2 separate regions of the Homo sapiens genome follow, and region 1 is linked to region 2. The links come from fine-mapping of genetic effects on plasma protein levels. A gene starts in region 2. The other region holds a variant in brackets. All regions are shown on one strand. Distances are from middle to middle.

Region 1 (11,384 bases), 13 kb before region 2:
GTGACAGCAGACACCACTGCCACACCTACCCTTGGCCAAGGGTACAGCCACCTGTCTTCTATTGTCTGGGACTCAGGAAGGCTGAAAGTAGATCATCTGATGGATAGCTGTGCTTGACCCTCACAGCTCATGTCTGGCTACTGACCTGGGGCCTCTTTAGAGCCAGCTGCCTGGGTCTTCCAAACCTAGTGGTCAGCCAGCCGACCTACCCTCTGAGTCCCAGGATTGGCCAGCTGTGCTGCCCATCAGGCCCCTGCAGGGGGTGGAGGTCCTCCTCCCCATCAGCTCAGGTTTCACCATCTGGCCATGGTGACTGGGCCTGAAGTAGGGGTATGGGGGTGGGGGGGTGCAATGTGGACACGCATGATGCAAGAAAGAGGATGATTTCACATGCTCAGTCCCCAAGGTCTGGGACTTGGGGGAGGGAACGCCTTATGAGCCAGGTGGGGAAGGGCAATTTTCCCTCATACCTCTAGTCTTTCTAGCTTCACCACTGCTGCAGCAGTTTCCATGAGGCAGCTGTGAGTTCCAGTGGGTATTCCTCTGGGGCCCTTAGGCCAGAAGGAAAATTCTGGTCTCTTTATTTCTAGCACTGGGGCTAGGACAGGGATGAGGGTTTGGGCGGGTAGGAGAATGGAGCCCTCTTGCTCAGGCCCAGGTGGCAGTGCCACGAGGCACAGAAGTCACCCCCTGACCCTGCCTGTGCTGGCCGCCCAGAGTCCAGTTGGCCTGGAGCATGATGTGGAGCATGATGTGGAGGAGGGCCAGAGCCGGCGGGGGTTGGGGCGGGGAACGTGTTCCTGTGATGTCTGGGGAAGCCCAGAGAGGTGGTGGTGGTGGTGATGCAATCTTACACAGGGCAGAGTCCATCAGGACTGTCAGGGGGCATGACACTTGGGAGGGCCTATACCCAGCTGCCACTTCTCTTTCAAGGGACTGTGAGAGTTGCCTAAATTTGGGGCATCCTAGAAGTAGTGCCAGGCCTCCTTTTTTTCTTACATTTTTAAAATTTAAATTTTATTTTATTTTACTGAGGTAAGGTCTCAATCTGTTGTTCAGGCTGGAGTGTAGTGGCACAATCATAGCTCACTGCAGCCTTGAATTCCTGGGCTCAGACAATCCTTCTGCCTCAGCCTCCTTAGTAGTTGGGACTACAGGTGCGCACCACCACACCTGGCTAATTTTTAAATTTCCCACAGAGACAGGGTCTCGCTATGTTGCCCAGGCTGGTCTTGAACTCCTGGGCTCAAGCAATCCACTTGCCTCAGCCTCCTAAAGTGCTGAGGTTACAGGCGTGAGCCACCGCACCACCCTTCAGGCCTGTTAATGGGGGTAGAAAATGGGAGCTCTAAGAGCTTTTGACAACAAAGCAAGGCAAATACAGCAGTCTTGGTTCCCAGTCTCAGCCCTCCTGACCACATTTTCTCACTGTCTTTATTTTATTTTATTTTATTTTATTTTTTGAGGCTGAGTCTCGCTCTGTCGCCCAGGCTGGAGTGCAGTGGCACAATCTCGGCTCACTGCAAGCTCCACCTCCCGGGTTCACACCATTCTTCTGCCTCAGCCTCCCGAGTCGCTGGGACTACAGGTGCCAGCCACCACGCCCGGCTAGTTTTTTGCATTTTTAGTAGAGACGGGGTTTCACTGTGTTAGCCAGGATGGTCTCCATCTCCCGACCTCATGATCTGCCCGCCTCGGCCTCCCAAAGTGCTGGGATTACAGGCATGAGCCACCGCACCTGACCTATTTTTTATTTTATTTTTTATGTTTTTGAGACAGGGTCTTACTCTGTCATCCAGGCTGGAGTGTGGTGGCCTGATCACAGCTCACTGCAGCCTTGACCTCCTGGGTTAAGTGATTCTTCCACCTCAGCTTCCAGAGTAGCTAAGTCTACAGGTGCGTGCCACCACACCAACCACACCACACCACACCACACAGGCTAATTTATTTTTTATTCTTTTGTAGAGACAGGGTCTTGCTGTGTTGCCCAGGGTGGTCTCAAGCTCCTGGGCTCAAGCGATCCTCTCACCTCAGCGTCCCAAGGCGCTAGGATTATAGACATGAGCCACCACACCCAGTCCTCACTGGCTTTAAATGGGGGGGGACCCAGACCCCTCCACATTGAATTCATGAAGGTGGGCCTCATGCTAGCTTTTCTCCTTATGCCCCAATTTCTCCAAGAAGCTTGATGGGGAGAAAGCTGTGGGGGAAGTGGGTGTGATTTGGAAATGTGTCTTTACTCCACTTTGCTCATCTCCCCTCTGTTTAGATGATGGGGGCTGTCAAGAGAGACTATTAGATCTAGGCGACAGGGTTCCTAATTGGAAGGCTGGACCTCAGTACCACCAGTGTCCACCATGTGGCAGTGCCGTGCCTCTGGACAGCAGCTGGCTTGTAGCTGGCTGGAGCTTCCCAGGGACAGGGAAGGGGCAGCTCTGGGGAATGGAGTGATGAGGAGTGCCCCTCGACCTCTCACTCTGGGGACGCTGCCTCCCCCACAAGAGACAGGGACAAGCTGGTTCCTTTGTTCTTTCCCCATCACACTGCCAGAGAAGAGAGACTGTCTTCAGGATCCACATCACTGCTACCTTTGGTTTTGGACCTCATCACACAAACACGTGGCAATGGAGCTTGGTGATGTACCAGGCTCTTCCTAGAACCTCAGGGCACTCTTTGGTGGGGGTGGAGTGGGGTGGGGGCGCACTGAGACGATTAGACCCTCCTGTCCACCCTGCATTTCTCCCCAAGCTCTGAAACACATTCAAGAGCTCTGTCCAGTGTTCTCCCCAGCTCCCAGCAACCATTCTGTTGGTTGGGCTGGGAAATGACAGCCCTCTACCCCCTCGGGTCTGGAACATTGGTCAGCAAAGTGGAGGTATCTATCCATGGTGGTGCCTCAGACGGCTTACCTGTTGGTATCAGTAGGCAGTCAGGGGAAGTGACAAGAAGTGGCTGCAGGAGTCACTGACCCCACCTCTCCCCACCCTCACTGTCAGATGCCCCCAGTTTCCAGCTCTTCCCACCCGCTTGCTGCTGTGCCTGGCCTGGCCCTACCTCCCCACTGACACTTACGTCAGAGCTCAGCTATAAATACGCTCTTAGCATCTTAGTCACTTTTCCCAAGAAGTGCTCCTGGGTTATAAATACCCCAGCCATCTGCCTCACTGCCTGCCCTACCACCAACCTGGTTGGGGGCTGGGGGATAGCGACAGGCTTGGGGGTGGGTAAGGAAGTAGAAGAAGTGGGAGTGGTTATCTTGCTCAAATGAGAAAAGCCTGAAGGGGTCCAGAGGTAGGAGCTAGGAAGCTCTAGAAGAAAATGTTTAGAAGAAGACAGACCCACTCTCTCCCCTTATTACAAAAGACAGAGCCAAAAAAGAAAGGGAATAATGCTGATCCTGTTTTTATTTAAAAGTAGGCTATTTTGTTCATCATGGATTTTTTGCATTAATTTTGACTTTAAAATAATATTGCATTAAAGTCCTATCTTGATTAATAAATTGTTCACCACCCCCTTAAAATTTAGCCCCCCCAGGTGAATGACTCACTTTGCTTTACCCCAGTCCTAGCCCTGGAGACTAAGCTGTAATTGGGAAGGAGGTTAGATCTGGGGGTCGGGGATGTGTGGGGGAGACACCAGAAGGCCTCCTTAGATTCTCCTTAGATGAAGGTCTCCTCAAGTCAAAGGTGGGATAACTTCCATGGGTTGCTCAGGAAGCCCTCAAGCTCAGATTTACAGTCCCCCAGGCAGTCCTTTTCAGACTTTCTCCTCTAGGGTTCCTATTTCAGGGACCTCTTACCCTCATAGGAGGGGGTCATAAACTGAGCAAACACAGACATCACGTTTACCAAAGAACACATGGGTTTTGCGCAAACTCGGCCTTGGGCTGCAGACATTATCGACCTCATGGTTCAGGACTGTCCAGCCAAAGGGAGGAGATGTGGGGGAGGACGGGCAAAGGTCTAAAAAGGACCCAGTCTCAGAGCAAATGCCACCCTCTCCTCATCCAGGCCTTCCTCTTCTCCCTGTCCCACTCCAGCAGCCCTTGCCCATTCCAGCTTCCAGGCAGGACTCCTGGGTGGAGCACTGGGGGTGGGTGAAAGGAAGGCAAGTCAGAGGTCCTGGCAGCCAGCTCTGAGCATGCCTCTGCCTCCCACACTTGCGTGCCCACAGCTGGTCAGTTTACTGGATGACCAAGCATAGATCTGTCTCATCTTTTGGAGGGATTACAGAGGGAACAGGTAAAGCCTAGGTTTTTATTAGCCATGAGACCTCAAAGATGGTTCTGGAAGGATGGAGGGACGGGGTGCCTAAGAAAGAAGAGGCATAAAGTGTGAGATGGATACAATAGTTCAGTTCTGAGGAGACCATGTGAAGAGACAGCAGAGTAGGCAGACTACAGCATAAGCAGGCAGGCTCTGTGTCATCTGGGGTGCCAGTTAGGGCCCTTGTAGGAGATAGAGGACTTTTCAGCTGTCTGTTTTTGCTTCATCAAGAGAACTTAGTGAAGGAATTATTTACAGAGGTATAGGCAGAGTTAAGGGAACCAGTATGAGATGTTGAGGCCCCAGGGACTAGCAAGATAGAAAGCCTTTAGGACCCCCTAGTGTTGAAGCAGTTATATCAGAATGTAGGCAGAGCTGGGGCCATGGAAGGGGGTAGCCAGGTAGTGTAGGGACACAGAATAGCCACAGTTACACAGAACCATGACACCTAGACAGAGAGGGAACAGGGATAAGAAATGCCCTGACCTCAGCAGGAAGCCAGAGGGCAGGGGAGCTCAGGTGATAGAGCTCAGGCAAGTCAGCCCTTAAGGGCATAGAGAAAGGCAGAGAAGGACAAAAAATGGATGAAGGTATGCAAAGAGAGCTTTAGTAGTTCACCTGGACAACTAAGAAGGACAGGGGCTCACAACAAAGAGGGGGGTAGGTAAGCCTCTATTTTGGGCAGCAGTGATCTAAACTTTGGTGAATCCAAAGAAGGGCCTCTCTGGAGATCCACAAAAATTGGGGGAAGGGGTTGTGTCAACTCATCTTGGAGTGGGGACCATTGAGTAGAAAGGACAGGAAGGCATAGTGGGTTATGGGGTCTATTAAAGGTGAGCTAAGGGTGTCTTTGCCTGGGAACCAGATGGCATTGCTCATGGTTGGAGATGGGTCTGAGTCCCTGGAGTGGGGCTAGC[G/A]GGATGGACTAGCGGGATGGACTATGCCCTAGGAAAGAGGGTAGTGGTCAGGAAGATGGCACAGTGACTTGCTTTAGATGAAGGTTTCTTCAAGTCAAAGGTGGGGTAATTTCCATAAGATGCTCAGGAAGAGGGAGTCCACATTCTGGACAGAGAATGAGGTCATTCCCTCCTCTCAAGGAAGTGCACTTCTGTAGGGGCGTGTTTTCCCATGCAACCTTGGGCTGCCCATACCACACATAGACTAACTGCACCCACAGGCCTCTACTACCATGTCAGGTATGTCAGTCTTGACAATGTTGCTGTCCCTGTCATAATAGAGCAGAGACAGGGGGCGCCGGGCCGTGGGTACACAGCATGAGCCCCCTCCAGTGGTGCCTGCAGCTGTGTTGGCCTTGAGAAGATTGAGCACTGCAGTGTGAAAGGAGGCAGCAATACCAGGCATGCCTGCTATGTGTAGTGGGCACTGCCCTATGCAGAAGTTCATGGCGTAGCCCTCAGGCTGGATGATCCAGTCGTGCCAGCCAATCTCACGGAAGTCCACAAAAAACTCTTGTCGACAGCACATCCTGGACCCTCCTTGGCAGTCGATGCCTCGTCGGTGAATCTGGTGTTTGCCCCCAACTCTCACCCGGGCTGCCACAAAAGGCCTATGGGCAGCTCCACCCAGGATGACTGAGCTCTGGGCTACCTGGCCTTCAAGTACCAGCTCCAGGGTCAGGTGCCCCTGGCTGCAGGCAGCTTGAGCTTCAGGCCCTAGGGGGAGTTGATGCCAGCCACTGGCATCCACCTCCAGCAGGTACTGAGTAGCCAAGGTGAGGTTGGTATTATGTGGACCCAGCACAAGGACTCTCACTTTCAAGGTCCAAGTGGTATTGGAAGGGAGCTGCACAAAGAACATGAGACTGGCCTGCTGGACCTCCCTGTCACCAGCAGTTCTATCAGAGGAGAAGTGAAAATCAAGACGAGTCTGGTTGATGGTGGAGAGGCCTGTGGACATAAGAAGCCCCAGTCATTGCGGCCTTCTGACTGTCAGTTCTACCAACTATTTCTCTGTACTCAGCATTCTTGAGTTGTCTATAGCACTTGGCATTTGCTACAGTTTAAACATGTCCTCCAAAGTTCATGTGCTGGAAATTGGACCTCCAATGCAGTGGTGTTGGGAAGTGGGGCCTAATGGGAGGTGTTTGGGTCATGGGAATACCACCTTCATGAATGGATTAATGCCCTTATCTTGGGAATGGGTACCTTATAAAAGGATAAGTTTAATTATCAGCCCCACCCTCTCTTTGCCCTTCTGCCATGGAATAACACAGCAAGAAGCAAGAAGGCCCTCGCCAGATGCCAGCCCCTTGATCTTGGACTTCCCAGCCACCAGAACCATGAGTTAATATATTTCTGCTCATTATAAATGACCTAGTCTGTGGTATTCTGTTACACCAGCACAAAACGGACTAAGACAGCACTGCTGACAATTCTTTCCTTCCTGAAAATCTTTTCTCTCTTGGCTTCCATGACACAACTCTGTTATAATTCTTCCTGGTTTTCTTTGCTGGCTTTTCTTTCTCTGACCATCCCTTTAATATCAGAGTTTTCCAAGGTCTGTCTTGGACTTTCATTTCCTTCTAGTCTACATTAAGGGAGCTCTTAATTAGACTCATGGTCAAGCAACATAATTTTTTTTTTTTTTTTTTTTTTTAGACGGAGTCTCATTCTGTCACCTAGGCTGGAGTGCAGTGGCGTGAGGTTGGCTCACTGCAACCTCTGCCTCCTGGGTTCAAGTGATTCTTCTGCCTCAGCCTCCTGAATAGCTGGGATTACAGGTGCCTGCCACCACTCCCAGTTAATTTTTGTATTTTTAGTAGAGATGGGGTTTCACCATGTTGGCCAGGCTGGTCTTGAACTCCTGACCTTGTGATCCACTCACCTCAGTCTCCCAAAGTGCTGGGATTACAGGCGTGAGCCACCACGCCCAGCCAAGCAACACAATTTTTATGTTGGTGATTCCCAAATCTGTATGCCCAGACCAGAGCATTTTGCATATTTGGACCGGACATATAGATTTGGAAATCACCAAGCTTCAGGCCTAGATTTCTAACTACTTACTTTTGTCACATGAATGTCCTGGCAGCACATTAAAATCAATTTGTCCCAGAGCTGGGTGGAGTAGTGCATGCCTGTAATCCCAGCTACTTGGGAGACTGAGGCAACATGCCCAAGACCAGCCCAGGCAACATGGCAAGACCCCATCTTATAAATACATATGTGTGTATGCATGTGTGTATATATATGTATATATGTATGCATACATATATACAAACACAAGCACACACACATATATTTTATATATATATATATATATATATATATATATTTTTTTTTTTTTTTTTTTTTTTTTTTTTTTGAGACGGAGTTTTGTTCCTGTTGCCCAGGCTGGAGTGCAATGGCGCAATCTCAGCTCACTGCAACCGCTGCCTCTCGGGTTCAAGCAATTCTCCTGCCTCAGCCTCCCAAGTAGCTGCACCCAGCTAATTTTGTATTTTTAGTAGAGACAGGGTTTCTCCATGTTGGTCAGGCTGGTCTTGAACTCCTCACCTCAAGTGATTCGCCCTGCTTAGCCTCCCAAAGCGCTGGGATTACAGGCGTAAGCCACCGCGCCTGGCCTATATATTTTTTTTAATCAATTTTTTCAACCTGAAAAATAATTACTTTCCTTCCTATATACCCCCTCTTCATTCTTGGTGGTGCCACTACCCTCATCACCTGTAAAAACTCTATGATCAGCTAGGCGTGGTGGCTCACGTCTGTAATCCCAGCACTTTGGGAGGCTGAGGCAGGTGGATCACCTTAGGTCAGGAGTTTGAGACAAGCCTGGCCAACATGGTGAAACCCCATCTCTACTAAAAATACAAAAATCAGCCAGGCGTGGCAGTGGGCGCCTGTAATCCCAGCTACTTGGGAGGCTGAGGCAGGAGAATCGCTTGAACTTGGGAGGCAGAGGTTGCAATGAGCCAAGACCACACCATTGCACTCCATCCTGAGAGACAGAGCGAGGCTCCGCCTCAAAAAAAGAAAAAAAAAACAAACTATGATTACTTTCTTCATTCCCCCTATACCTTGTCTCACCAGAATGGTTCTAATGTCTGTGCATTTCTTTGTATCCCTATTACTACTGCCCAATTTCCTCTTATCATCCCTCACCTTCCTTACTGAACATCTTAGTTGGGTTTCTATTCCCTCCACTCTACTGAAATTGCACACGTCAAGATCACCAACACCTTCCACAAAGCAAATCTAACCATTTGTATTCATCTTACTTGACCTTTAAGCAGTGTTTGACACAGTTAACCACTCCCTCCTTCTTCCATATTTTCTTCTCTTGGCTTTTATAACAGTGGCCACTCTATCTTTTTCTCCTCTATCGACAGCTCCTCTTTGTCGGCCCAACCTTTAAATGTTGGAAGTCAGGCCAGGCGTGGTGGCTCACACTTGTCCCAGAACTTTGGGAGACTGAGGTGGATGCATGGCTTGAGTCCAGGAGTTTGAGATCAGTGAGATCAGCCTGGACAACTTGGCAAAACCCTGTCTCTACAAAAATTACAAAATTACCCAGGCGTACTAGTGTACACCTGTAGTCCCAGCTACTACGGAGGGCTAAGGTGGAAGGATTGCTTGACCCTGGGAGATCAAGGCTATAGTGAGACATCAACGCACCACTGCACTCCAGGCTGGGCAACAAAATGAGACCCTGTCTCAAATAAATAAATAAATAAATAAATAAATAAATAAATAAATAAATAAATAAATAAAGTCCTAAGCTCCCTTCTCTTCACTATCTATACCCTCTCCCAGAATGATCATCCATTCCATGGCTTTCAATTCCATCTATATGCTGATGACTTCCAAATATATATATCTGGTCCTGACCTCTCCCTGAGCCCCAGCCTTGTATGTCCAAGTGGCTATCTGATATTTGACTTGGACATCCAATGATATTTCAATCTCTTTTTTTAATTAAAAAAAAATTTTTAGGCCGGGTGTGGTGGCTCACGCCTGTAATCCCAGCACTTTGGGAGGCAGAGGCAGGTGGATCAGTTGAGGTCAGGAGTTCGAGACCAACCTGGCCAACATGGTGAAACCCTGTCTCTACTAAAATTACAAAAAATCAGCCAGGCATGTTGGCACATGCCTGTAATCCCAGCTACTCGGGAGGCTGAGGCAGGAGAATTGCTTGAACCCAGGAGACAGAGGTTGCAGTGAGCTGACATCGCGCCACTGCACTCCACCCTGGGCAACACAGCGAGACTCTGTCTCAAAAAAACGAACAAACAAACAAACAAAAAAACCACCAAAAATTAGCCAGGCATGCTGCGGGCACCTGTAATCCCAGCTACTTGGGAGGCTGAGGCAGGAGAATCACTTGAACCTGCGAGGCAGAGGTTGCAGTGAGCCGAGATCATGCCATTGCATTGCACTCTAGCCTGGATGACAGAGCGAGATTCTGTCTCCAAAAAAAAAAAAAAAAAAAAATTTACATGGAGATGGGCGGGGGGTCTCACTATGTTACCCAGACTGGTCTTGAACTCCTGGCCTTAAGTGATCCTCTCACCTTGGCCTCCCAAAGTGCTGAGATCACAGGCATAAGTCAATGTGCCCAGCCTCAATCCTGTACAAGGAAGTCTAAATGTATCCCCCCAGTCCAAACCTGTTCCTTCTCCAAACTTCTCCCCATAAACGCATTGCTTAAGGCAAAATCTTGATTGTGTTTATCCTCTACTTTGAAATTATCTGAAAGTTTTATCAACTCTACTTCTAATTCATAATATAATTTCACTTCTCCCCACTTCCTCTACTACTCATTAGTCCAACTCACAACCATCTTTTTCTTTAACTGTAGCTTTCGTTCACTCAAGTGATTCACTCTTGCTCTCCAAACCATTCTCCAAATATCAGCCAGTGATCTTTTTATAAATCTGATTAGTTTTATCTTCTCAGCTTAAAACACTTCAAAGTCTTCCCCTTGCTCTTTGGATAAAATCTAAACTCCTTGAAATAGGAAACTTGTTTGACACTTAACTACTACACCCTGCCTATACTGGCCTTTTTCTGTTCCTCAAATTCACCAAACATAAAGCTATCTCATAGCCTTTACACTTGCTAGTCTCTTTCCCTGGAATGTCTTTCCAAGATCTTTGAATGACTGAGTTCTTTTTGGCATTCGGCTCAGATGTCTCCTCCTCAGAGAGGCTTCAGGCTTCCTTCCTAATCTATCTAAAGCAGGCTTCAGCCAGGCGTGGTGGCACATGCCTGTAATCGCAGCACTATGGGAGGTCAAGGTGGCAGGATTGCTTGAGGCCAGGAGTTTGAGACCGACTGGGCAACATAGTGAGACCCTGTCTCTACAATAACTAAAAAATATATAAATAAATAAAAAATAGCTGGGCATGGAGGAACACATCTGTAATCCCAGCTACTCGGGAGAATCACTTGAGCCCAGGAGGTCAAAGCTGCAATGAGCCAAGATCATGCCACTGCACTCTAGCCTGGGCAACAGAGCAAGGCTGTCTCAAAAATGAAATAAAATAGAATAAAACGTAATAAAATAAAATAAAATAAAAATAGCCTTCAATTCTGCCTCCATCTCTCTAATACATCATCCTGCTTAACTGTTTGTATAGCCATTATCATGCTCTGTAATCAGTGTGGTTCTTTTTTTTTTTTTTTCTGAGACAGAGTCTTGCTCTGTCACCCAGGCTAGATTGCAGTGGTACGATCTTGGCTCACTGCAACCTCCACCTACCCGGTTCAAGCAATTCTCCTGCCTCAGCCTCCTGAGTAGCTGGGATTACAGGCATGCACCACCATGCCCTGCTAATTTTTGTATTTTTAGTAGAGACGGAGTTTTGCCATGTTGGCCAGGCCGCTCCGGAACTCCTGACCTTGTGATCCTCCTACCTCGGCCTCCCAAAGTGCTGGGATTACAGGCATGAGCCACCAAGTCCGGTCCAGTGTGGTTCTTCGTTCATTTGTTTACTACGTATTTCTCCTACCCCTCTTTCTTCCCTGCAGCTAGAATGTAAGCTCCATGAAAACAGCGGTTGTGCCTGTATGGCTCACCATTGTATCCCTAGTACTTGGTATTTAGTAAGCACTCAATAAACACTTGTTGAGACCAGGTGTGGTGGCTCACACCTGTAATCCC
Region 2 (11,276 bases):
AGTCTATAGGACCTTTTGCTCAGCTCCTCCTAAGTGAGCAGATCTTCCAGTGTCCCAATTCCAAAATCCTAAAAGAGTCTGACTGGCCCAACTAATCTTTTCCTTGCTAGGTCACAAAGCACCCTATAGTTAGTACCTTTTAAGTCACTCCAGTTATGGCAGGCAAACACAAGACCAACAGGGGCTGTAGTAGACTATTACACTGTTGGCCCCAAAGGCCAACACCTCCCAGTATTCATGACTTTGTGCTGTCCCTTTCCATATTAATTCTGGGCTTAGCCATGTGACTTGATTTGGGCAGTGAGACATTAGCAAGCATGGTGTTTATTGAGTACTTACATATTGAGGCATTCCACTCTTGGAAGCCAGCCGCAGTGCTTTAAAGGAAGTTGAGCTAGACTACTAAATTAGGAGAAGTCATGTGGAGAGAGACTTTGGAGGATTAGAGACCATCTTATATGTTCCAGTCCCATCTGAGTCCCCAAATGAAGTTGCATGGGAGACCTCAGCTACACCACATGGAGCAGAAGAACTGTCCAGATAAGCACAGTCAAGCCACAAAACCATGAGAGTGGCTGGGGGCAATGGCTCATGCTTGTAATCCCAGCACTTTGGGAGGCTGAGGTGGGTGGATCACTTGAAGTCAGGAGTTCAAGACCAGCCTGTCCAACATGGTGAAACCCTGTCTCTACTAAAAATACAAAAAAAGCCAGGCATGGTGGCGGGCACCTATAATCCCAACTACTCAGGAGGCTGAGGGAAGAGAATCTCTTGAACCCTGGAGATGGAGGTTGCAGTGACCCAAGACTGTGCCACTGCACTCCAGCCTGGGCAACAGAGTGAGACTCCATCTAAAAAAAAAAAAAAAGAATCATGAGAAATAATGAATGTGTTGTTTTAAGCCTCTATGTTTTGGGCTGGTTTGTTATATTGATAAGTAACTGAAACAAAAATTAGTATCAGAAGTGGGGTGCTACCATCACAAAAACCTAAAATATGTTGCATTGACTTTTTTTTTTTTTTTTTTTGAGACGGAGTTTTGATCTTATTGCCCAGGCTGAAGTGCAATGACGTGATCTTGGCTCACTGCAACCTCTGCCTCCTGGGTTCAAGCAATTCTCCTGCCTCAGCCTCCCCAGTAGCTGGGATTACAGGCATGTACCACCACACCTGGCTTTTTTTTTTTTTTTTTTTTTTTTGAGATGGAATTTCACTCTTGTTGCCCAGGCTGGAGTGCAATGGCACGAACTCGGCTCACTGCAACCTCCACCCCCTGGGTTCAAGCAATTCTCTTGCCTCAGCCTCCCGGGTAGCTGGGATTACAGACATGCACCACCACACCTGGCTAATTTTTTGTATTTTTGGTAGAGATGGGTTTCTCCATGTTGGTCAGGCTGATCTCGAACTCCTGACCTCAGGTGATCCACCCGTTTTGGCCTCCCAAAGTGCTGGGATTACAGGCGTGAGCCACAGCACCCGGCTTTTTGTTTTGTTTGTTTGTTTGTTTGTTTTAAAGAAACATCTTGCTATATTGACCAGGGTGGTCTCAAACTCCTGGCCTCAAGTGATCCTCCCACCCTGGCCTCCCAAAGTGTTGGGATTACAAGCATGAGCCACTGTGCTTGGTCAGTTGCACCGGCTTCGGGAATGAGTGGCAGGCAGAAGTTAGAAGGGTAGGGAAGAAACTGTTAGTAAAGGAAGGAAGAACAGTGAGGAAATTGCTATTGGAAGCTGAAGAAAGGGGAACTTGTATTGTGTATTGGCTATCACCTGTGGTAACTTAGAAGCCAGGAAAGATATCTAACAAAGTTGTGAATTTAGCTAATGATATTTCCAGGCAGAATGCTGAAAATGCCAGTTGGTATATTTTAGTTGCCTACGATAAGGCATTTCGGGAGAGAGATGAACTAAAAAAGGAACTGTGGCTGGGTGCGGTGGCTAACACCTGTAATCCCAGCACTTTGGGAGGCTGAGGCGGGCAGATCACAAGGTCAAGAAATCAAGACCATCCGAGCTAACATGCTGAAAACCCATCTCTACTAAAAATACGAAAATTAGCTGGGTGTGGTGGTGTGCACCTGTAGTCCCAGCTACTCAGGAGGCTGAGGCAAAAGAATCGCTTGAACCCGGGAGGCAGAGGTTGCAGTGAGCCAAAATTGCACCACTGCACTCCAGCCTGGCGACATAGCAAGACTCCGTCTCAAAAAAAAAAAAAAAAAAAGGCACTGTTCAATTTTCAAACAGAATTTAGAGAAAATATTTCTAAAAGGACTTGCTAAATTAAAAAATAGAACCGCTTACTCTATGTTGCTAATTTTTCAGAAAACAAAACAAAACAAAACCTTTTACTTCATGTTGTACATGTAGAGGAAAGAAAAGAAAAATAATGACAAAAATTCTTTTTCATTCTTTCTCTCTGACAAAAGGTTCTTAAAGTAAGAAATTACCTCAGGGCAAAAATCAAATCCAGGGCATTTCCAGTAATACAGGGACTCAGAGTGAAGATCAAAACAAATAAAGGGTCAGCTATAAAACCTTTTGTTAGCTGGTCATGGGAACACATGCCTATAGCCCCAGCTACTCAGGACGCTGAAGCAGGAGGATCCCTTGAGGCCAGGAGTTTGAGGCTATAAGGCAATATTATTGAGGCTGCAAATAGCCACTATACTCCAGCCTGGGCAACATAGCAAGACCAACTCTAAAACACAAACCAAAAAAACGCTTTGCTTGTTAAGATCTAACATTTTTTTTTGAGATCTAAAATTTAAGACGATGTTCTGTCAACCCTCACAACTAGACAAATGCACTTCTAAACATCTTAAAGGTGTCATCCCATGACACAGACTTGTAGCCTAAAGAAGTGTCTGTCTTGATAGAATGTGGTGCCTTCTGTGTAACTGAGTAGACTACAATTTATTATTTACAGGGTCCACAGAGTTTTAAAGAGAAGTTTAATACTGAAAGCAGCACCAGTTTGGACTAAAAGGGACAATTCAAAATAAAAAGGGGTCTCTGGGCCCCCAACTCTGGGCAGAAAGTAGGCTGAGAAAACTACTCAGCCACAAACACAGATTATTTCCTATTTAAAAGGAAAGACACCTCAGCAGGTAGAGGCCAAGGGCTGAGAGGGTGGATTTGGAAGTCCAGGAGAGCAGTGGTGAGCAATGGGAAATACCAGGGAGCAGAACCAGGCCCTAACTAACCAAGGGAATTCTGGGTTTGGAGTGGACCTAGATATTTGCCTGGCTGAATATAAGAAGTTTTATGGATCAGTGACTGCTCTGTGTCTCCTATTCTCCCATACCCCATTTTGAACAGGAATATCTATTATGTTTATCCTGTCCCTGTCTCAGCATTGTATGTTAAGTGCGTGGGAGGTAGAGAACTTGTATTTTTAGGACGCAGACAGTGGTATGCTGGTAAATGTTTAATAACTGGTCTCCAGGGAAAAAAATCAAAAGCCCTGATTTGTAGTCTTTGTCAATTTCTATAAGACTACAAATTCGCCCACCATGGCTGATTTCTAGCTGCTAATGTGACATCACTGAATGCTGAGTTGGGAGAAGATGTTCACAATCAGCTTTCATAAGTCTGAATAAGCCAGCGCTAGGACATCACTGAAGGCCCCTGCACCTGAAGAAATGTACCAGAGGAGCCTCACCTATATTTGCACCTAATTCAGGTGATGAGATGCTGAACTTTAGCCCGATCCTGATGCCATAAAGGGATGAAATTTTGATGTGGGTAGCTGGGAGAGGATGATTGTATTTTGCTTGTGGGAGAGATATAAATTGTTAGGGGTCAGAGGGCAGACTTTAGTAGGCTGCTAGATTGGTAGTCCCCAGTAAACACTACCTCATGGCTTTCATGCCTTCGTCTAGTTCCATCTCACAGTGATAGATTCTAGGCTTGGCTACAATGACTTGCTTTGTCAATGGGACATTAGCAAGCAGGGTGTATGTAGAAGTTTGAGAATAATTTACACATTGAAATTATCCTCTTGGAATCTGGCCACCATTCTCTAAAGAAACTTGGGATAGACTATTGAATGATAAGAGGCTTCATGGAGAGAGGCTGTTACATTCCCTCAAAATTCATATGTTGAAATCATAACCCCCATGTGATGGTATTAGGAAGTGGAGCCTTTGGGAGGTGATTAAGTAATGAGGGTGGAGCCCTCATTAATAGAATTAGTGCCTTTATAAAAAGTTTCCAGAGATTTGCCTTGTCCCTTTCCTCCATGGGCAGGCACTAAGTCTACTCTCTAGTTCCTGCTCCCTTCCACTTTAACATTCAAAGTACTTTACCTGTATTAGCCCATTTAATTATCTCAACTATCCTCTTATTATCCCCATTTAACACATGAGAAAACTATTAACCACTAGGTCAAACAGCTAATAAATGGCTGAGCAAGAATCTGAGCCCAGGCTATCTAGCTCCAGTTCAAGCAGGGTCTTGAAACAGGTAGGGGTGGGTGCAGTGGCTCACGCCTGTAATCCTGGCACTTTGGGAGGCTGAGGCGAGCAGATCACTTGGGGTCAGGAGTTCGAGACCAGCCTGGCCAACATGGTGAAACCCCGTCTCTACTAAAAATACAAAAATTAGCCAGGTTTAGTGGTGTTCGCCTGTAGTTCCAGATACTCGGGAGGCTGAGGCAGGAGAATGGCTTGAACCCGGGAGGCGGGGGTTGCAGTGAGCTGAGATTGTGCCACTGCACTCCAGCCTGGGCAACAGAATGAGACTCCATCTCAAACAAACAAACAAACAAACAAACACAAAAACGAGGGAATGAGGGGCCAGAAATGGGAAGGGTCTTCCAGACCTAAGAAAAAGCTTGCAAAGGGCTCAATTGGCATTTTCTTTCTTTCTTTTTTTTTTTTTTTGAGACGGAGTGTCACTCTGTCCCCCAGGCTGGAGTGCAGTGGCGCAATCTCGGCTCACTGCTAGCTCCACCTCCTGGGTCCATGCCATTCTCCTGCCTCAGCCTCCAGAGTAGCTGGGACTACAGGCGCCTGCCACCATGCCCAGCTAATTTTTTTTGTATTTTTAGTAGAGACGGGGTTTCACCATGTTAGCCAGGATGGTCTCGATCTCCTGACCTTGTGATCTGCGCGACTTGGCCTCCCAAAGTGCTAGGATTACAGGCGTGAGCCACCGCGCCCGGCCTTCAATTTGCATTTTCTAGAGTCCTGGCTTAGAATTCCTGATCTGCTCACTATATACTCCAACTATTCCCCTGTCTATGGAAGTAACTATCTCTCTTCCTTGTCCTCTTTTATCTATCTTTCTTTAATTAATTAATTTTAGAGATGGGGGTCTCACTCTGTTGCCCAGGCTGGAGGGCAGTGGTGCAAACAGCTCAGTGCAGTCTCAAACTCCTGGGCTCAATGATCCGCCATCTCAGGCTCCCAAATAGCTGGGACTGCAGGTGCACTCCACCGCACCCAGCTATTTTTAGCCCGGGGATGGTGGCTCATGTCTGTAATCTTAGCATTTTGCAAGGCCGAGGCGAGTGGATTGCTTGAGCCCAAAAGTTCAAGACCAATCTGGGCAACATGATGAAATCTTGTCTCTGTAAAAAAATATATGCTGGGCGCGGTGGCTCACACCTGTAATCCCAGCACTTTGGGAGGGCGAGGCAGGAGGATCACGAGGTCAGGAGATCGAGATCATCCTGGCTAACACGGTGAAACCCTGTCTCTGCTAAAAATACATAAAAAGTAGCCAGGCATGGTGGTAGGCGCCTGTAGCCCCAGCTACTCGGGAGGCTGAGGCAGGAGAATGGCGTGAACCCAGGAGGTGGAGCTTGCAGTGAGCCAAGATCGCGCCACTGCACTCCAGCCTGGGTGACAAAGCGAGACTCCATTTCAAAAAATAAAATAAAATAAAATAAAAAATAAAAAAAATTAGCCAGGCATGATGGCGCATACCTGTAGTCCCAGCTACTTGGGAGGCTGAGGTGGGAGGATCACCTGAGCTTGAGCCTGGGAGGTTGAGGCTGCAATGAGCTGTGATCATACCACTGCATTCCAGCCTGGGTGACAGATGAAGACTCTGTCTCAAAAAAAAAAAAAAAAAAAGAAAAAGAAAAGGCCAGGCACAGTGGCTCACACTTGTAATCCCAGCACTTTGGGAGGCCGAGGCAGGCGGATCACGAGGTCAGGAGTTCGAGACCAGCGTGGCCAACATAGTGAAATCCCATCTCTACTAAAAATACAAAAATTAGCCGGGTATGGTGACACACGCCTGTAGTCCCAGCTACTCGGGAGGCTGAGGTGGGAGAACTGCTTGAACCCAGGAGGCAGAGGTTGCAGTGACCTGAGACCATGCCATTGCACTCCAGCCTGGGTGACAGAGTGAGACTCTTTCAAAAAAAAAAAAAAAAAGTTTTTTAAAAAAGAGACAGGGTTGCCGGGCGCGGTGGCTCACGCCTGTAATCCCAGCACTTTGGGAGGCTGAGGTGGGAGGATCACGAGGTCAGGAGTTTGAGATCGGCTTGGCCAACACGGTGAAACCCAGTCTCTACTAAAAATACAAAAATTAGCTGGGTGTGGTGGCGGGCACCTGTAATCCTGGCTACTCAAGAGGCTGGGGCAGGAGAATTCCTTGAACTCAGGAGGTGGAGGTTGCAGTGAGCCGAGATCACGCCACTGCACTCCAGCCTGGGTGACAGAGCAAGACTCCGTCTCAGGAAAAAAAAAAAAAAGGGTCTTGCTATGTTGCTCAGGCTGGTCTCGAACTCCTGGCTTCAAGTGATCCTCCTGCCTTCTGAGTAGCTGGGATTACAGGCAGGAGCCACTGTGCCCAGCCCCTTTATCCATCTTTCTGAGTCCCATTTTGACCCTGTTCTCTGTGATATGGGGACCTGAGGTATATATGGGAACATGACATATGGTGAGGTATTGCAGTCCTGGTGTTTTATTTTTTCTTCTTTTACTCAAATGAGGCATCTGGAGGAGAGGGGAAGGGAGGGGCTAGATCCTGGGGCCAGAGAAAGGAGAGACTCCCACCTCCCAGTCGCTGTGTACAGGCCCAGGAAGTGGATGGGCTCACACCACAGCCTGTGGGTTTGTGGGGCCTGCAGAGAGAGGAGCCGGAGGAGATGACGGCAGCCAATCTCAAAAGAAGTGAAATTTACCAGCTTTCCAGCTGCCTATTGGTCAGGTCTGAGCTACCAGAGTGACCCCAGAGGGATGTGGGGGTTGTCGGGACACCTGGGTAAGGAGATTATAGCCTGTGGGAAGCAGGGGTTGGATGGTTTTTGGGGAAGGAGTCAGAGGTAAGTCTGGCGAGGAAACTTTTCCTTTCCTTGAGGGGTCAAGTTCTGGGGAAGAGCTACAGATCAGGAACCCACCTGTCTCAGCAAAGCTGATGATTTCACATTCCTGTTCCCTGTTGTCCTCTAGAAGTGCCCCCTGTGGGACCCCGTGGAGGTGCTGCAGTGCAGTCCTCAAAGCAGCTCTGGACACAGGGCGGTTCAGTGTTGGGCGCTGGGTGAGGTGCAGCTTGTCCAAGATGCTTCTCTTGGCCAGATCAAGAAGCAGCTCCCGCTGGCTCTCCAGTTCCAAGGTGGGCCCCCCACATGCTGGACACTGACCGCCAGCTCTGGGAGTGGCCACTGTGGTTGGAGCCAGGAGGAGAAAGGCCAGAAGCAATGAGGAGGTCATTGCTGGGGAAGGCCCTTCTTGAGCAATACAGACTCAGGGCTCAGGGTCTCAACAGCTGTGGTCTCAACTCTGTCCTGGCTGCCAGAGGCCCTGGAAGAAGTGTGTGTCCAGCTGGCATGGCTCCTTGTTGCAGGGGACAGAGCAGCAGCCAAACGTCTGACTTGAAAATGAAGCCAGTTACAGGTAGAACTTGGCAGAATCTGCCAACGCATAGTCAGTGAAAGTACAGAGTGGGGGATGTGAGGAGAGGTTGGTTTGTTTAGGGAAAGACACGTCCCTGGGCCAATGTTGGGAGACAGTTGTTATCCATGTGAGCTGCCAGGCCTGGGGTTCAAAGGTGAGAGATTAAATTCCTCCTCAGATCTCTACCCTTGCTGGGAATCCTGGGGATGGTGGAAAGGGACAGATCACAGGTTTTGGGAAAGAATGTTAAAGGGAGACTCTCAAACAAGAAGGGGTCATTGGCAAGGCACTTTAGCTCACTGTCACGCATGAACAATTGAGAGTTGCATTCTTTTTTGCCTGGTGTTTCTCAAAGCCCATCCCCATCCCTCCATCCTCCCTCCTGGGGTTCTCAATCCAGCCTTATTTGTTAGCCCTGGTTGAGTTTTGCCCAAGAGGTCTCAAAACTATGAAGTCTGAAGGTTAAGGGAAGGGAGGCACAGTGTTCTAGCCATGTCTTTGATGCTCTCAGAGGGAACTCCTAAGGTGGGGAAAGGGCTTGAGTTCCAGATTTGCTCACCCTTTGGGGTTTTTTTCTGTCTTGGAAAAGAAGTTTTGAGATTCCCTTTTTTTTTTTTTCTTTTGAGATGGCGTCTCACTCTGTCGCCCAGGCTGGAGTGCAGTGGCATAATTTCAGCTCACTGCAACCTCTGCCTCCCGGGTTCTAGCAGTTCTCCTGCCTCAGCCTCCTAAGTAGCTGGGATTACAGGTGCGTGCCACCATGCCTGGTTAATTTTTGTATTTTTAGTAGAGACGGGGTTTCACCATGTTGTTCAGGCTGGTCTTGAACTCCTGACCTTGTGATCCACCCGCCTCGGCCTCCCAACATGCTGGGATTACAGGCGTGAGCCACCGTGCCTGGCCAGGAGTATAGGTTTTAAATCCAGGTATTCTTGGTTGTTGTTCTTCAGTTCTTGCACTTGTCTCAGAAACATTTCAGGCTTTCATTCTGTGTCATGGCACTGAGAAAATAAAACAATTTTAATCTGGGAAATGCAAGTCTTTGAAGATTATCAGGCTCAGAGAGACATTAAAATGAGACAGCAGACCAGGCATGGCGGCTCAAGCCTATAATCCCAGCACTTTAGGAGGCCAAAGCGGGCAAATCATTTGAACTCACGAGTTCAAGACCAGACTGGGCAACATAGCCAGACCCTATCCATACTAAAATAAAAAATAAATAAATAAAATAAAATTTAAAAAAAGCTGGGAGTGGTGGTGTGTTCCTGTAGTCCCAGCTACTCAGGAGGCTGAGACTGGAGGATCATTTGAGCCCAGGAGGTTGAAGGTGCAGTGAGCTGTAATTGTACTGCTGCACACCTGCCTGGGAAATAGAGTGAGAGCCTGTCTCAAAAAAATAAATAAAAAATAAATAAATAAAATGAGAGGGCAATCATGTCCTACTTCCTGCTTTTGAGCTATGTATTCATCTCTTGAAATTGCTTGCTATTGCCACAAGTAACTATAAATTAACATAATAATGCTGCACTGGACACTATAACCTAGATCCTATAGCTTAACAATCTATAGCCAATCACTAATCAATGTTATTTCTGTAAACCAACAAGAATACCCGACAACTTTGTATCAGTCTACTCCCTGTCTCCTTCTTTTTTGCCCTTAAAAATGTGCTTGTAGGCTGGGCGTGATGGCTCACGTCTGTAATTCCAGCACTTTGGGAGGCTGAAGTGGGCAGTTCACTTGAGGTCAGGAGTTCGAGACGAGCCTGGCCAGCATGGTGATACCCCATCTGTACTAAAAATACCAAAGAAAAATAAAAAAATAAATAAAATAAAAATAAGCCGGGCGTGGTGGCACATGCCTGTAGTCCCAGCTACCTGAGAGGCTGAGGCAGGAGAATCACTTGAACCCGGGAGGTGGAGGTTGCAGTGAGCTGAGATCATGCCACTGCACTCCAGCCTGGGCGACAGAGCAAGACTCCGTCTCAAAAAAAATAAAAAAAAATCTGGAACTTTGGTTTCATTATTGTGCCTCAGGTTTCCTCATCTATAAAACAGGTATAATAATAGTACCTATTGTATTGAGGATTTGATACTAACAATAGATGTAGAATGCTACACATTTTATATTGTACTTACATACACATAATACAAATATTAGCTATTATTTCCTACTGGTCATCACTGCCTGGTCTGGAACTCCTGAGCTCAAATGATCCACCTGCCTTGGCCTCCCAAAGTGCTAGGTGTGAGCCACTGCGCCCGGCCAAGACAAAAAGTTTAAATCGTGGTGAAAAGTGGCAGGTTAGATCAGTTCAGTTCAGTTGTATTTTTCTTCCCCCGTTGTTGTTCTCTAGAGGGTTGAGAGAATTTGGGGGCAGGAGGCAGTGATGACCAGGAGAGAGGGCTGGGCAAGGTGGCTCACACCTGTAATCCCAGAACTTTGGAAGGCCGAGGCGGGTGGATCACCTGAGGCCAGGAGTTCGAGATTAGCCTGGCCAACATGGCAAAACCCCGTCTCTACTAAAAATACAAAAAATAGCCGGGTGTGATGGTGCGTGCCTGTAGTCCCAGCTACTCCGGACGCTGAGGCAGGAGAATCACTTGAACCTGAGAGGTGAAGGTTGTAGTGAACCGACATTGCACCACTGCAATCTAGTTGCCTGGGTGACAAAGCGAGACCCCATCTCAAAATAAATAAAACAAACAAACAAACAAACAAAAAACGCCAACCAACCTGGAACTTGCTCATCCTTGAAGGAAAGATGAACTTCATGCCTCTATGACTTTGCTGGAATCTCCATTCTTACCTCTCTAGTGAACTATTTATAGTCTCAAGATTAGCTGGAGTTTCACCTGTAGTTTCTCTGTAACTTACTCAATCTCTTTTACCGCTAAGAACGAATTGCTGTTCCTTGTGTTTCCATAGCACATTTAAACCTTTCTATTATAGCACTTAAATTGTACTATAATTATTTGACTTTTTTTGCCTACCGCAGTTTCTGTCACAAGGTAAATATTTAATGGTCGAATTCTACAAAAGACTACATTGCTTCTTTGAGGGAGTTTGGTCAGTAAATTATCCACACACACATAATCAATAACTAAATTGATTCTGCCTAGAATGGACAAAACGGGGGAGGCTGGACATTTAAGACGATTTTTGAGAACTGTATCTTAGAGAGGGGATGATGGTAAGAATGTGATCTTAATAGGACAGACTGAGTTCCTCCTAGGTCGGTTTTTTTCATCTTTACGTAAAATGGACATTTACCTGCTCAACTATAGTTATCCACGTATGCAACAAATACCGAGTGTACGTTCTTTTGGTACAGGAGTTACTGCCCTAAGTGAAAGTGCTCTGTAAATGGAAATTACTTTAGAATGATCACTATTAGTATTATATTGAAATCCAGGGTATTCTATC

Which allele goes with the higher level. Positions count from the first base shown, and alleles are read on the strand shown. Strength reflects both the effect of a copy and how common the allele is.
For the plasma level of the protein whose gene starts at base 7,770 in region 2, allele G in region 1 goes with a higher level than allele A (strong association).

What was found. A credible set is the group of variants that fine-mapping cannot tell apart. PIP is the chance, under the fine-mapping model, that this variant and not a neighbour inherited with it causes the effect. Protein levels are from antibody-based Olink assays in UK Biobank. Linkage for the fine-mapping came from a reference panel and not from the study's own genotypes, which makes the PIPs less certain.
Region 1: its variant is the best candidate, but not a certain one, in a credible set for the plasma level of the INHBC protein (UK Biobank, PIP 0.78).

What each region holds. Positions count from the first base shown.
Region 1 is chr12:57,444,065-57,455,448 of GRCh38, reverse strand. It overlaps INHBC (inhibin subunit beta C), which reads right to left. Exons shown (of 2, transcript NM_005538.4): 2 at 3,387-6,172. The coding sequence ends at 5,427. INHBE (inhibin subunit beta E) reads right to left here and starts at 142. Exons shown (of 2, transcript NM_031479.5): 1 at 1-142. RefSeq lists an enhancer at 169-463. The variant G/A (reference allele first, on the strand shown) is at 5,183.
Region 2 is chr12:57,431,278-57,442,553 of GRCh38, reverse strand. INHBC (inhibin subunit beta C) reads right to left here and starts at 7,770. Exons shown (of 2, transcript NM_005538.4): 1 at 7,355-7,770. The coding sequence starts at 7,667. It overlaps R3HDM2-DT (R3HDM2 divergent transcript), which reads right to left. Exons shown (of 2, transcript NR_185976.1): 1 at 11,124-11,276; 2 at 8,619-8,851.